Linked DNA regions of Homo sapiens: region 2 is linked to region 1. The links come from fine-mapping of genetic effects on gene expression. A gene starts in region 1. The other region holds a variant in brackets. All regions are shown on one strand. Distances are between the middles of the regions. Region 1 holds the start of LATS2 (large tumor suppressor kinase 2). Region 2 overlaps LINC00367 (long intergenic non-protein coding RNA 367).

Evidence for each region. PIP is the estimated chance that this variant, and not a neighbour inherited with it, causes the effect. A credible set is the group of variants that fine-mapping cannot tell apart.
Region 2: its variant is the best candidate, but not a certain one, in a credible set for the expression of LATS2 in whole blood (TOPMed, PIP 0.56).

What each region holds. Positions count from the first base shown.
Region 1 is chr13:21,060,298-21,062,797 of GRCh38, forward strand. It overlaps LATS2 (large tumor suppressor kinase 2), which reads right to left and starts at 1,289. Exons shown (of 8, transcript NM_014572.3): 1 at 1,049-1,289. RefSeq lists an enhancer at 1-648 and silencers at 154-563, 704-1,503.
Region 2 is chr13:20,938,112-20,941,126 of GRCh38, forward strand. LINC00367 (long intergenic non-protein coding RNA 367) reads right to left here. Exons shown (of 6, transcript NR_104058.1): 5 at 1,752-1,824; 6 at 453-539. Among named protein-coding and RNA genes, the nearest start is that of LINC00367, 9.8 kb to the right of the region's middle. RefSeq lists an enhancer at 1,489-1,988. The variant G/A (reference allele first, on the strand shown) is at 1,371.

The DNA.
Region 1 (2,500 bases):
GTCAGAATCCCCATCTCCAGAGTCCGGCTGGGGAGCTAAGCGCAGGTGAGCTTACATCAGAAGAGAAAGCCAAACCCCCCACACGTCGCTAAACTAGGGCACGGGAATGGCGTGTTATGCAACGGCCGCCGTTCGCGTGGCCACGAAAGCGCTCCTGCGCCTCGGGCCGCGTCCCGCCAAGACCGTGAGCAAACTCGCAGAGTTGGCGCGGCAGCCGGCCGGGAGACGCCGAGCAGGGCCTGGCCGCCCGCAGCCCGGGAGGAACGGCGCCCCCAGGGTCCGGTGGCCTCTGAGGGGCTGACTGGCCCGTGAGCCGGCGGCGCGGCCGCGGGGAACGGGGTGGGAACCGCGCGGCAGTGGGTGAGGCGGCGCAGCCACCGGGGGCTGAGGGGCGGCGCGGCCTCGACTGCGGCACCGCCGTGGGTCCGTCGGCTCGCGGGACGACGGGGCGGCCGGCGGGGGCCAACAGGGCGGGCTCTGAAGGACTGATTGGCCCGTGGGACGATGGCGCGGCCGGGAGGATGGCCCCGGATCCGTGGGACCGCTGCGCCGCCGGACCGGGGGTCCCGAGGCTGTCAGGGGCGCCCGGCCGGGCGTCTAGTGAAAAGCCGATCCCCCGGAGACAGCGGAAGCAGAGGCGCGCCCGGCGCTACGGCCTTTCGGGTCTAGGACACCGCCCCCGGCCCGCGCCGCCCCTGCCCCGCCGGGATCCCGGCCGCCCCGGTCGCCGCACAACAAAGCGGCGCAGCCCCGCTGCCCCCGCCCGACGCCGGCCTCCAACTTCCCCGGCTCCTCTGGAACCGGCTCCGCGGGCTCCGTACGGCCTGGACTACGAGCCGCCGGGCGGGGGCGGCTCCGGGCGGGCGCGGACCGTGGGGGCAGGGCGCAGGGCTCCGTCCGGACAAACTTCCTCGGCCGCCCCGCCGGGCGCCCTTCCCGGAGCCTCGGCACCACAGTAGGTGCGCGGAGCCGCAGGGCTCGACCGCTTCGCGGAAACTCTCGCCACCCTCCGAGCTGCCGCCCCGACCCCAGCTCCCAGCCCCCTCACCTCCAGGGGCGCGGTCTACACCCTCGGGGGCGTCCTGGCCGGCGGCTCCCGGGCCTCTCGCGCCGGGAGACCGGGCACTGGTGGCTGGAGCTGCTGCTGGCCCCGCAGGGACGGGGGAGCCCCGGGCGGCGGCGGTGGCGTGGACGGCGACTGCTCCATCTTCCCGGGGCGCTCACGCCGCGGTTCCAAAGCGCAGACCCAAGTGGGACATTCGCTACATTGTTGGCATTCCACGGGCGTCACGTGACCCCGCCTCCCGCGTCACTCTCGGCCGCATACCAGTCCGGGCGGGGCGCCTGCGGCCCCTGCTCCTCCGCGGCCGCTCCGCCCAGCCCCGCCCGGCCGTGCTTCCTGCCTCCGGCCTCGACCGCCACCTGCCCACGGCCTCCCTGCTGGCCTGCGGTAGCTCGCCAGGGCCTCTCGGACCTATTTGACTGGCTGCTATCTGCCCCCAAACTTGAGTATTTGCCCTCTCGACTGCATTTGTATTAAAAGTTGGTAACTGTCGTTAAAGCCACTATTCTTAAGTATCTCATACCAGTCTTGGTGAAAGAAAAAAAAAAGTTAGCAGGCCTGAAGGAGCCACCAAGTTACCAACTAGTGGCTGGACACTAAAAATAGGGGCAGAAAAGGACAGACGGCTATTGGGACAGTGGAATCAAACAATTAAGAAGGACGTTTGCCAGAAGCGGTGGCTCACGCCTGTAATCCCAGCACTTTGAGAGGTCTAGGCGGGTGGATCACCTGAGGTCGGGAGTTCGAGACCAGCCTGACCAACTTGGAGAAACCCCCGTCTCTATTAAAAATACAAAATTAGCCAGGCGTGGTGGCTCATGCCTGTAATCCCAGCTCTTCGGGAGGCTGAGGCAAGAGAATCACTGGAACCCGGGAGGCGGAGGTTGCGGTGACCTGAGATCGCATCATTGCACTCCAGCCTAGGCAAGAAGAGCAAAACTCCGTCTCAAAAAAAAAAAAAAAAGAACGTCTGATGCACACCCAAATTTAACCTGATTTAATTTAATCAACCTCCCCTCCCCATGTATATTTTCTTTCTGAGAAGTATTTTATGGTGTAGGGAATAGTATAGTACCGTATATACCAGCAAGTGAGGTCGTGGGTTTTGAACAGCTTCACTATCCATTTGAGGACTGTGGATCTGGTACAGGGACAGAAGCAGGGATGGTGCAAAGATTCACAGTAGAAATAATAGACTGGAAGCCAAATCCTCAGTCTACTTCTGGCTCTCCTAACATCATACTTCCTACCACCTATATCTGTGGCAAGTGATGCTGAGGGTCAATATAGTGTTTAAAGTCAACTCGATTTCCTCTTTAATTGACAAACTCTTGTGAAATTTTTAAATTTTACTCTCATGGGAAACAGTAGTAAAGGTCATTATCTGTGCACTATTTTGACAGTCTCACCCAGCCTTCAGTCCCTGGTTCATCCTCC
Region 2 (3,015 bases), 120 kb before region 1:
CAGAGGCACATCACCACATCTGGCTAATTTTTAAATTTTTTTGTAAAGACAGGGGTCTCACTTTGTTGCCCGGGCTGGTCTCAAACTTCTGGGCTCAAGTGATCATCCACACACCTCGGCCTCCCAAAGTGCTGGGATTACAGGTGTGAGCCACTGTGCCTCACCTCAATTTTGTAGGATTTTTGTAGGATTTTGATTCCAATCTTTTCTCTGCCACTTATCATTTGTGTGCCCTGAGTGAGTTCCCGTCATCTCGGTATGTCTGTTTTTCATCTGTGCAATAGGGGTCACAGTACCTACCTCATGCTGGGTTTGAGATCTCCGTGTGCCACATATTAGCTTGGGACCTTGGGCTGATTAGTTGTCCTCTCTGAGCCTCAGCTCCCAAGCCAGGAGGTGGAGCTAATGTGGCTGCCTCCAGGCATTAGCACGAAGATGGGCAGGGATGGCTCTGAGCACCCAGCACAGAGCAAGACCCCTTCACCCGGTAGACACCTGGCAGACGGGAATTACCACTGCTTATGATACAATGGTATTTCCTAAATTTGAAGATAATGTTGAAAGTAAGCTGCATCATGGATTTAATAATAGTGCTTTGAGTGAGAGAGAGAGAGAAAAAAGAAACCAATGTGGCATTCAGTGCATAAGAATAAAATGAGGTGTTGAATAAAAAGACTTGGGCCGGGCGTGGTGGCTCATGCCTGTAAATCCCAACACTTTGGGAGGCCGAGGTGGGTGGATTACCTGAGGTCAGGGGTTTGAGACCAGCCTGGCCAACATGGTGAAACCCCGTCTCTACTAAAAATATAAAAATTAGCCAAGCATGGTGGCGTGCGCCTGTAGTCCCAGCTACTCAGGAGGCTGAGACAAGAGAATCGTGTGAACCCACAAGGCGGAGGCTGCAGTGAGTCGAGATTGCCCCACTGCACTCACTCCACCCTGGGTGACAGAGTGAGACTCAAAGAAAAAAAAGTCGAATTTTTATACACATCCGTTAGGGACTTTTCACATCATGTGCATTTCCATAAATCTACACATTGTATTTTTGCACAGACTTGTGTTTCTAGGTGTGTCTGGGGCTCCAGGATTCTCTTACAGGAGACGACTGTTCAACTTGTTTTTAAATGAAAACACTAATGTTTCGTTTTATTTTTTTCCCTGCATGAAAAGTAACAATCCACCATAAAGCAAGGGGCATGCCCCCCGACCAAGCCATCCTTGCTCAGGGGTAGAGAGTAACCCTTTGCGGGGAGTGGGTGATAGTGCTAAGATTTGGGTTCTGGTTTTAAGGAGTTATCTAAAGTTTAGTTCTGAAAGAAGACGCAAAGGGGATTTCTCATGGAGGAATGCAAGCCTATGGGACAGAAGGC[G/A]ATGAGTCAGGAATCGTTGGATTGGGTCACCAAAAGCCTGGGTCCTGATCCAGGATGCTTGTCCCAAAAGGGGCCCCACATACTTGATTAAGAAGGAAAGAGTGAGACCACTGTGAGGGGCAACAGTCAAGGATGGGGGGCAGAAGGGGTCTTTGAATCTGAAGCCCACCAGGGGCTGACTGTCCAGCTTTGATGTGAGCAAGAGCCCCTTTGAGGAGCTGCCCAGGCTAGTTCCTTCCACAGTGGCTCAAAGACAGGAGTGCCTGATCTGCTGCCGACTGGCTGGGAGACTGAGATTTGTTGCAGGCCAACTAGTGCATGTGACCCAGTGTCAGATATATCCCCAAAATATCCCTGGCAAGTGGCGGGATGATCTCCTACCCCTTCGCTTGAGCAGGCCGGAGGCCAGGAGCTGAGACTCCTCATTCTCCATTTCTGTTTACCTTCTCCCCAGCTGGGAACAAAGGACAAGAATTTGGGAGTGACAGGCATGTGGCCACACACTCAAATGCACTTGTTTATACCTGTTTGTTTACTGTTTCAGCAGATTCTTGCTTAGCAATAACTGAGTTTATCTCCTTGTCTTAAGGAAACTCTTAAGAATGTTATTATAATGTAGTAAAATTTAAATGTCTCTTGAATGATGAAGCACTAACTAATGTGCTATATCTAAATGTAGAAATGCACATTTACGAGTATTGTCCTCTCCCGGCATTTTCATCTGAACACTCAGTCTGTTGACAACACTCAAAAACTTCATAAAAGATCACAATCTAGCACTTAAGTTCTACAGATAATGTTGAAATCTTGCACAAGATTTAGGAATCTCAGGCAATGACATGCATAACATTGCTATTAGGAAATGTGTAATATACTCTTCTGTTACTATCAGTGGAAAGTCAAAAAACAAACAAACCATAGTGATAAGAGCTGTGTGAATTAAGGAATTTTAGAGCTGAAAGTGACCTTCGAAATCCTAGAGCCTCACCCATTTTTACCTTCTAATAATCGTGCTGTAAAATATCACACTTACACTGTAGAAAATTTGGAAATATACAGAAGATGTTTAAAATTAGGAAGAAAAGGCTGGGCACCGTGGCTCATGCCTGTAATCCCCGCACTTTCGGAGGCTGAGGTGGGCAGATCACAAGGTCAAGAGATCGAGACCAGCCTGGCCAACATGGTGAAACCCAGTCTCTACTAAAAATACAAAAAATTAGCTGGGCGTGGTGGCGCGCGCCACTGCAATCTGACCTAGCGACAGACTGAGACTCAGTCTCAAAAAAAAAAAAAAATCAGGAAGAAAAAAATCACCCACAATTGTATCACCTACAAGAGGTCACCATTTTTTAAAACTTTGCCGTATTTCCTTTCAGACATGTAAAATTTTTGATATATTTATTTTTTTCTTTTTCTTGCTACAAAAAACTGAGATCGTACAGTTTGTATCCTTCACCCTTTACTTAACATTATATAGTGATAATTTTGCTTTTTATTAAAAACTTTTTGAATATGGAATTTTTATTGATTACATAAAATGTGACAGTATGGCATAGAGTCATAAAATATTTGTAACCGTCATCATAGTATTGAATGTGTAATTGCGTTTAAAGATACTATAGTATAGATGTGCTAAGGGAAATAC